2 separate regions of the Homo sapiens genome follow, and region 1 is linked to region 2. Evidence: fine-mapped expression QTL. A gene starts in region 2. The other region holds a variant in brackets. All regions are shown on one strand. Distances are from middle to middle.

Evidence for each region.
Region 1: its variant is fine-mapped to the expression of PARD3B in blood mononuclear cells (TOPMed, PIP above 0.99).

What each region holds. Positions count from the first base shown.
Region 1 is chr2:205,379,405-205,384,804 of GRCh38, forward strand. All of the region lies in intron 18 of PARD3B (par-3 family cell polarity regulator beta), which reads left to right. Among named protein-coding and RNA genes, the nearest start is that of NRP2, 300 kb to the right of the region's middle. The variant C/T (reference allele first, on the strand shown) is at 2,006.
Region 2 is chr2:204,543,327-204,548,726 of GRCh38, forward strand. It overlaps PARD3B (par-3 family cell polarity regulator beta), which reads left to right and starts at 2,149. Exons shown (of 23, transcript NM_001302769.2): 1 at 2,149-2,793. The coding sequence starts at 2,674. RefSeq lists a silencer at 2,136-2,185.

The DNA of each region.
Region 1 (5,400 bases), 840 kb after region 2:
CTTTAGGGACGAATCCAGAATGTACCCATGTTCCATGATTATGATGAAGTCTAATATTATTATATTTGGGGTTTTTTTTAAAAAAAAAGCAAACATAGACTCTGATTTTGACCAGTATATTGGCAAAGAGAAGATATGAGCTATTATTTTACATTGTTATTTTAAAATATAATTTCATAAATGACTTCTGTATTACCCACACTCTTTAGCAAAATTCACTAATTAGCAAAATTGGCTAATTCTCTGCTTACTATGTACCATCCTAGTAATTGGCAAACAAAAAAAGTGGCAGCATCTTATATCTCTGCATTAATACAAATTAGCAGGTATTACAGTGAGAGCTCTTATTACTTGAATACTTGTTCTTAAAAATATATGTGTGGGGCCAGGTGCAGTGGCTCACACTTATAATCCCAGCACTTTGTGAGGCCAAAGCGGGTGGATCACAAGTTCAGGAGACTGAGACCATCTTGGCTAATATGGTGAAACCCCGTGTCTACTAAAAATATAAAAATTATCCAGGCACAGTGGCACGCACCTGTAGTCCCAGCTACTCAGGAGGCAGAGGCAAGAGAATTGCTTGAACCCAGAAGATGGAGGTTGCAGTGAGCCGAGATCATGCCACTGCACTCCAGCCTGGGCGACAGAATGAGACTCTGCCTCAAAAAAAAAAAAAAATATGTATATATATGTTAAAAATATATATTATACATAATATATTATATATATTATATAAAGAATATATATTATATAAAGAATATATATTATATAATATGTAAAGAATATATATTATATAATATGTAAAGAATATATATTATATATTATGTAAAGAATATATATTATATATAATATATAAAGAATATATATTATATAATATATAAAGAATATATATTATATATTATATAAAGAATATATATTATATATAATATATAAAGAATATATAATATATAATATATAAAGAATATATATTATATATAATATATAAAGAATATATATTATATATAATATATAAAGAATATATATTATATATTATATAAAGAATACATATATATAATATATAAAGAATATATATTATATATAATATATAAAGAATATATATTATATATAATATATAAAGAATATATATTATATATAATATATAAAGAATATATATTATATATAATATATAAAGAATATATATTATATATAATATATAAAGAATATATATTATATATATTATATAAAGAATATTATATATTATATAAAGAATATATATTATATATAATATATAAAGAATAAACATATATACTATATATAAAGAATATACATTATATATACTATATATAAAGAATATACATTATATATACTATATATAAAGAATATATATAATATATAAAGAATATACATTATATATAATATATAAAGAATATATTATATATTATATAAAGAATACATTATAATATAAAGAATACATTATATATAATATAAAGAATACATTATAATATATAAAGAATATATATAATATATAAAGAATATATATAATATATAAAGAATATATATAATATATAATGTATATAATATCTAAAGAATATATTATATATAATATCTAAAGAATATATATAATATAAAGAATATATATGATATATTATATATAAAGAATATATATTATATATAAAGAATATATATTATATATATTATATATAAAGAATATATAATATATAAAGAATATATATTATATATATTATATATAAAGAATATATAATATATATAATATATATAAAGAATATATAATATATATAAAGAATATATATTATATATAATATATAAAGAATATATATTATATATAATATATATAAAAAGAATATATGTTATATATATAATATATATGTGGACATTTATTTGCCCATGGTATATAGTACACACAAAATTCACAATTTTTTGTCACAATGACAACTGCTGCTCATATTTGCATTTCTTCAATGCTTGCTAATCAAAATCAAGTGTTCCATAATAGATCTGCTAATTA[C/T]ATATGTCGTTAAGTAGTAACTTCCTCAAAAGGCTGTGTTCAAAGTAGATAATGCCAAGCTTTGGAAGGTCGGAAGGTACTGTATATTTATGGTTTGCATATCTACTAATTTGTCTCCTCTAGTTTTACCCATTTCTGCTCGTCATCTTTACCACTTGTTTGTACTGTTTTAGAGTAATCCTTCCAGCTAGCGTTAATGCCAGTCTTCCCATCTCCATTGCTTATGCTCTAGCTTCATGTCCGTTTCCTTTGAATCTAGTGATTTCCCAACCAATAAAAGCGAACGGAGAGTGGTATGTATTGGTAGACAATTAAATTAATAAACCTATATCTGAAAAGCTCAGAAACATGTAGACAATGTATATATTTCTGTTTGGGGGAGGACTGCAGTTAATGAGTAGGAAAGGGGAATTAGTACAAGGTCTAACAAGAAACTAGAGGGATGCATCAAGCAGAACAGAAATAACTATGCATTTCCTTCTTTAACCTTTCCTAATCATTTCTCTCCTTTTCCTTCTTGTTGTTTAAAACTTTTTCAGTTTTAGACTACCAGAAATTTGCAAAGAAGTAGCACAGTTTTCATATACTTTTTACCCAATAATTACCCCCAATGTTAAAATAGTGCGTAACGATGGTACAGAGGACCAAAACTAAGAAATTAACATGGTTACAAAACTATTAACTAACCTACAAAACTTATTTGAATTTCACCAGTTTTTCCATTAATGTCCTTTTTCTGTTTCAGTATCTAATCCAGGATACAACATTGCATTATTTGTTGTAACTCCTTGGTCCCCTGTGCTAGCTATGTGACAGTTCTTCCCTTTTTCCTTATCTTTCATGACCTTGTTACTTTGGAATGTAGTAGTGAGTTATTTTGTAAAATGTCACTCAATTTGGGTTTTTCTTACCATGATTAGATTGAGGTTATGCATTTTTGGCTTGAATACTGCTGAAGTGATATACTCTTCTTAGGAAGTACATGATGTTGATGTATCTTATAACTAGTGATGTTCATCTTGATCATTTCATTAAGCCATGTCCGCTGGGTTTCTTCACTATGAAGTTACGATTTTTCCCTTTGTAATTAATACATATCTTGGGGAAGATATTTTGAAACTATGCAAATATCCTGTTTCTTTTCATGTTTTCACCCACAACTTTTACCATCCATTAGTGGTTCTTGTCAGTAGCAATAGTTACCATGGTGTTTCAATGGTGATTTCCTGTTGCACTAATTCCTTCTACATTCATTAATTGGAATTCTTATCTAAGGAAGAACTATACTTTCTCCCACCACTAATGTCTCTATTCGCTTAGTTATGTCATTATGAGATTCATGGATATTTATTTTATTCTAAGGGTTATAATCTAGGCCTATCATTTATTTTGTTGCTCAGATTATTCAGTATTGGCCACTGGGAGCATTTTCAGGATAGCTCATGTTCCATTTTAACTTGTCCATACCTTTTGAAGAAGTTTCTTATTTTTTGGCACCGTGAAATGCTGTAAGTTTACCTCATAGGTTCCCCGCCACAGCCCAGGAATGAACCACTTCTCCGAGGAAGTCTGGCTCCTTTATTGTAGAAACCAAGATCTGAGCTCTAGGAATACTCATTGCTTGAGTATCATTGTTTCTAGACTCTCTCAGGAAACAGAACCTGGAAAGTTTACATAGATAGATAGATAGATAGATAGATAGATAGATAGATAGATAGATAGATAGATAGATCGATCTAAACTATGTCTACACATATCTATATTTACTTCCAAATCTATCTGTATGCACATTAAAAAACCATGAGTTTATACTGATACCTCCAATTCTAATCCAATACCACAGTAATCATTCTAGCCTCTTCCTCTTTCATTATTTGTAACTTCTTTCTCATGCAGTAAGAAAGCTGTCTCTGACTATCTGCAATATAATTATTTGTTCAACCCTCATATATTCATAAATTTTTTTTCAGAATTGCTAATCCATACCCTAGTACTAAGCAGAGTGCAGTACTTGTGTACATTTCTTTTTGCCTTTAGCTTTGTGGTATTTTCTCAAAATACGGTTTTCTAATGATACTTAGTTATTTTCTTTCTCAAGCCCTTCAGTGTGGTTATGTTAGTTATTTGTAATAACATTAGCTTCACTTGTTATAGTTTGTATATCTGTTTGGGTTCCCTCCATACCTTGGTTGATTGTTTTAATGTACATACGGTGAAATTCACTCTGTTGTATACAGTTCTATGGGTTTTACAAGTGCAAAGAGTCATGCATCCACAGTCATGATACAGAATAGTTCCATAACCCCAGATTTCCCCCTCACCCCTCAAATCACTGATCTGGTTTCCATCTCTGTGGTTTCATCTTCCTGGTATGTAATGAATGGAACCAGACAATATGTAGCCTTTTGGATCTGGCTTCTTTCATTAGCAAAATGTACTTGGTGTTCATAGGTTGCCGTGTGAGTAGTATACTGTTGCATGGGTGTTTACTTCCTTCTTCTAACCTAATTTGTGATTCTTGCCCATGCATCTAATGTTTATATTTATAAAATTGCCCACTGGCTTGATGCTTATTGGATTGCTCCTTTGGGACTCTGAAACTGACTTGAAACTATGTTTTTTATCTCCCCTTAGCACAGTTTACCTCACTTCATCTTATTTACTGTGGTTACTTGCCACAACCATCAGTCATTTTAACATTCCAAGGAGGGTTACAGCCAACCCTTAATTATTTTTGGTAAGTTTGACAGAGAGAGAATGGATAATTGAAATCTTCACATAATCTGCAAGCCTTATAATAGCTACTTCTTCTTCCCTCAACTACTTAAAGGTAGCAAAATTGACTCACTTTAAGTTTTATATCCTTTCCCTTCCTTTACTTATCCTCTGGTAGGAGCACTAATGAGTCCTCAGGTGACCATAAAAATGGAAAGACAGAGAAAAAGGGGAAGCACAGGCTGTGGGTAATCTACATAGGAGATAAAAAGCCTCTGAGTCACTGAGAATTGATGACACTCTAGTAAAATAGATCTGAGTAGGGATTTTGTGTCTTTGACTATTTTTGATTCCTATATAATGCTTGGTACTTGTTGATTCAATGATGGACTTATGGTCAGTCCTAAAAGTCCACCTAAAATAATATACTCCTACTCAGAAACTGCCAACCTCCTAGCTCTATTTTCCTTCCTAGCTGTGTCTATGTGCTCTCCACGGCAAAGCCTGAGGTTAATTTGTGGTATGGGGAGAATCTTAATTGCATTAACGCAGGCATTTGTAACTTAACATACATGGATAGGTATACATAGTCTTTTGGGAATCTGTGAACTCTTAGAAATTATAAATAGAAATGTATACACATTTCCTGGGAGAGAGAACCATAGTTTCCATCACAGTTC
Region 2 (5,400 bases):
GAATAACAAATTAAACCTGGCTATTTAATAAACATGAAATGTAAACACTAAACTCTTCATACTAACTTAGGGCTATAAAAGGTCACCCCATGGTGTACAGGATTGCACAATGCACTGTTCACATCCTTGTCTAGAGTCATCTCTTCCTTCATCTCACAATGGCATGGCCTCTGCTGCATCCCCTAGGTCCCGATTCCAACTTCCCAAGTGGAACTGGGAGAGCCGGAGTGTTCTTTATGGTTCACTTGGGGATTATCAAAGCCAGGACTTGGGGTGGGAGGTTCTAGATATTGGGAAGGAGCTAAAGCTGGGCTAAGAGGGAATTTGTGGCGAAGAGGAGGAGCTATTCATGACCCAAGCAGAAGAAAATGAGTCTGGAGCAACTGTAAAGCAAAAAGCCACGATGCAGGAAGGATGGCAACATGCAAAGTTATTTCATCAGTGGAAAATCTTTGCTCTGTACCATTCTATAGGTCCATGAAATACCGAATATTAAAAGTGAGGGCCACACATTAATGCACGGCATCAGTATCTATTTGTTTGTTTGATTCACTCATTGGTACTTCTCATGTAAGAAACAGCACAGCAGTTACGATGAAGACTCTGGAATCAGATGACCTGGGTTTTAAGCCAGCCTCTGCTACTTTCTAAGAATGAGATTTTAACTAAATCATTTAACTTCCTTTGGCCTCAGCTCCTCATCTCTAAAAAGAGGATAAAGTGTCTCCTTTGAAGAGAGCTGGCCTGAGAATGGAGACCACACTGAGGAACAGATAGAGCTAAGAGCTGGACAGAGCTAGCTGGCCCCTGAGGACATAGTTTGAGTTCCTGCTTTCAACCTTGCCTCAATGGAGTGCCCTCTGGATCTTCTGATTTTATGAGGTGATCAATTCTGTCTTTGGTTTATTTAAATGTAAATTAGTTTGTATTGGATTTACAACCAAATTACAATGGACTTGGTTTACGTGATCCTCTTGGTTTGCCACTGACTTTCTATACATAGAAGACAACCAATATATACTTACTGAATGTATGAATGAGCTAAAATTTATTTTTTTAAAAAACCTCTTGAAACCCATGAATTTAATCTCCTCTGCATTATCATACCATCCTAGGCAATTCACGTTCAATTTAAGTGTGTCCACATAGGAGCACATCCTTCTGTAGAGAAACACATGATGCAGCCCTGAGGGTCTTGCTGGATGAACTGGATGGCTAAGAAAACTGCAGGGAGAGACCAGAGATTGAGCTCAGAAGACCTGAGTTCTTTTCAACAGAACTAACACCATGGTCTGCTCAGTCTCTTGACCTCTCCGAGCACCATTCTTGATGCACAAGATGCGAAGAATAATATCTACCTACCGGGTAGTTGTTAAGCTCAAAGGAGCTCATTTACATGAGAGCTAAGAATGAAACTAACGTAATTTGTTGGTTTCCCCCACATATTCCCATTTCAATTGGTGATGGATACACACCTGCCAAATCATGAGCCTAAGGGTGTTAACTTTTTTTTTTCCTAATAAAATGCACAACGGTAGTCGCATTCCAGAAGGCTATGTGTCAACACACGCGATCATATCTGGGTCTTGGGTGTGACCTTTGGCCAAATACTCAGTGTCCTCGAGGGTCTGTAAAAGGAAAAGTTTCCACTGGCGCGTTCTCTCCAAGGTTCGCTTCAGCTCTGCTATCCCAGGGCTCCTGATGGCAGCGGCACGGGCTGTGCTTAAGGCGAGTTCCTAACAGGCCCTCGGGGCACTCCTGCATCTCCGCACCCGGCAGCCTCGCCCCTTGGGTGTTTTTGGTGGGCGTGACTAGAAGCACCTGCTCCTGGGCTCCTTTTGCATCTTGCTGCAGTCCCCTCCTGTGAAGGGCGCAGCTCTGCAGTCTCCTCGCTCTTCCCTCGGGTGTTCTTTCTGAGATCCGGTTTCAATCCTCGAGCGTGTAGCCCTCAGGTCCCCTTACAACTCCCCAGAGCTCCGTGTGCATGCGTGCGAGAGGGAGAGAGCCAGGGAGAGACCCAGGTGACGAGACGAGGCTCCCGGGCTCCAGTTACTGGCCCGCAGGGCCGGGGCACGTCGTCGCCCAGCGTGCGGCGGGGCCCGGGAGCGCCGCGGCCCCTTTAAGAGCCGGGCCCAGGCCGTCGCCGGGACCGCAGGAGCCCAGAGCGCGGGCGCCGCAGAGGAGTTGGGAGCCGGCGCAAAAGTTTCCTCCCAACTCTGGCCCCGTGCGCCGCCGCCGCCGCCGCCCACTCCAGCCCCCGGCTTGGGGCCGGCCCTGCCAACGCCGCCAGGGCCAGGGCCAGGGCCAGGACCAGCGACAGGGCAGGGCCGGCAGTTTCGCTTTGGTGGGCGCGGAGCAGCCGCCTGGGCCGGGCAGGAGTAGGAGCGGGAGGAGGAGGAGGAGGAGCCGGTGCCGCGGAGCTGCCGCGTCCCGGGCCGCCGGGCACCTGGGAGGTAACCCCTTTCCGCGGCCGCCCCTCCCCGATTCCCGCCACCTGCCGCCTGGCCAGGTGGAAGGGGCGCTGCCGCGAGCCTCCGGGCCTCAGGGTGTTCCGGGGAGCGGCGCCCCGGGTCTCTGGGCCCACCCGCCCCGGGCGTCCTCCGAGAGTGGGGGCTGCGCCCGCGGGGTCAGACACCTGTTCGGCCCGGCCCGGCGTGGTCGCCGGGGGCCAGGATGAAAGTGACCGTGTGCTTCGGCAGGACGGGCATCGTGGTGCCCTGCAAGGAGGGCCAGCTGCGCGTCGGCGAGCTCACCCAGCAGGCGCTGCAGCGGTACCTGAAGACCCGGGAGAAGGTGAGCGCGGCGCGGAGGAGTGGGGCGCGGCTGCAGCCAAGGCACCTGCCAGGTGCGACCCGGTGGCGACACTCAGGGGATGCAGAAAACCCAGGGGATTATGGGGCACTGCCTGTAGCTGCAGCTGTTGTCTATTGCTAATATCAGTGATGTGGGTGTCTTTGGGTGTTTGTGGGCCTTGAGCTCCGAGGGTCGTGAGTGGACCTGCAGCATTGGAATCTCTTGGGAGCTTCTTAGAACTGCCCAATATGGGCAGTTCTCCAAACCCACCGACTCAGGATCTGCTCTTTAACGAGATCCCCAGGTGATTGGAATGCCCACTGAAGTTTGAGAACCACTGGTTTAGAACTTGTTTGAGGGAACGTCTTAAAAGGTGCTGCTCACCTAAGTGTGATTTTTGACCCATTAAGGCCCGCCTCACTTAGGCTCCTTGGAGTTAGAAAGTTGATTGTGCAAGTGACACATACTCGGAAGTTACAACTGATGGGGCCTTTGGAGTTTCAGCCTTGTGAGCTGCCCTGTCTCAGTGACTTGGGCAGGAACACAGGTGGGAGCATGCTGTTTGCTTAGCCAACCTGTCTACATTTTGAGTGTTTTCAGTTTAATGTCACAGATTCTATGACCATTTACTATGTGTGTGGGCTGTTGTCAGGTCCTGAGTGACTATTAAAATGAGAAAGACGTTCCTAGCTCTGTAGCTGAAGTCAGGAACAAGTATAAATTAAGTGACAATTTTTTTTAAGTGTGCAATACATGTTGAGAAAATATCTGGCACTAGAACTTATGCCAAGTATTTGGGTAACATTGGGCCTCTGGGACTTCCTCAGTGAAACTTTTAAAGGAAGGCATTGAATAACCTTTTAATTTTTTGAATCTTCACATGGAACATTTTGTATGTCCCAAATGCTCCTCAAACAGGGCAAGTCACAAATTCTTGTTTTAGCGGCCAATGGTTCTCTTAATATTTGGTCTCGTGCCATGTGACTAAAATAGTGGGTTGGTCAATCTAGTGATGGAAAAACGTAAGTTTTAATTTCTTTTAACTTCTTATCGGTTATCCAAAGCATAAAAGTAATTGTTTCTTACAAGTGTATAGCTTAGGGGTTTAAGAAAATACTTGCACCTTCTTTGCCTCCATGAAGAATTATTATACAGAAAAAAAATTCAGCTCTGGACAGATACATGTGCATATTGCTTTGGATACTCAAGAACTGGAGGAGAGTACAATGAAAGGTCTATTAATATATTAAATATAACCCCTAAAGATGAACTCTTTACTGATGGAATTGAGGTGGAGGAGGGAAAAAATTAAAGTGGTTTATAAAGCTGTGTGAAAATCAACTGCAATGTTATGTGTGTGTGTGCACGTGCATATGTGTTTGCCATTGTTAAAATAGTGTTTGCTGTTTAAATCATGTAATTCAGTTAACTGATGTTTAAACAAGTAACCAATTGTCTATTAAATCATATTTCACTAACTTTTGAAAGTGAGCTAAGATTAATAGTAACAACATTACTCCAGACAGATTATTGAAATAGATCTCATTGAGGGATTGTCTTACCAAATTGAAGTTACTTTTTAACTATTAAATAATTTATGCCCTCAAATCTTGTATATTTAGAAGTTTAGTACAGGGGGCTATCCAAGTAAGAGATAAACTACAAGCTTGTAAATAACATGAAGAGAACTAACCAGCTGATATTTAATTCACTATAATTTGATCTTAAAAGGTGTTAAAATATTGACATTCTGGAATGGAAACGTAACTTATAATATCACAGAACAATGTAGTTGCATTGATCAGTTTACTATTATTACCAGACTTATATTTTTCTGTTTACATTTATATATTAGTGAATGTGACATTTAAAGGTCACCTGCAGCATATAAATCCTTCCTCTTATTTTCACTTTTAAAATTTCATTTTAAGAAGTAGTAGGTGATGATTTTTCCCCTCCCCAAGTATTCTTCTCCCATAGTTTTATTTTAAATAATATTGTAATCATAACAAGATTTAACGAATATTAAATCGTATTCATAATGGCACTAAAAGGTCAATAAATACCCTAACAAATTCCATGCTTTTATTCATTTTTTTTAAATGAGAAAAGGCCAGAAATGTCAAAATTCAATTTGAAAAACAATGTGTAGTAAATTCACTTTCTGTAAATCAGTGAATTTCTGCACTTCGTAATAATAATCACACTAACATGTAACATGTATTGTGCTTATTCTGTGCAGGCCCTGTTTTAGGAACTTCATGCTTATGACTTATTTCTCCCAACAACCTTAGGAGATAGGTACTATTATTATCCCCATTTTACAAATCAGGGGAAAAAGAGACACAGAGACATGACAAGTAAGTCGTAGATTTGGGTTTAGAAACCAGGAACTGTGTCTTTAGATGTTTGCTCTCAGCCATTAACTGCATAGCCTAGTACTATGTATGTTGTTATGAATTGGAATTTATCCATATTGTTTGTTTTTTAATGCTTGATTTAAAAAGACATTTCCATCTACTAACTGCTATATCACATCAACCTAAAAATAGCAATTTTGCTTCTGGAATAGTGATGGGATATCCACAAGTTTCTCTTAATTATATA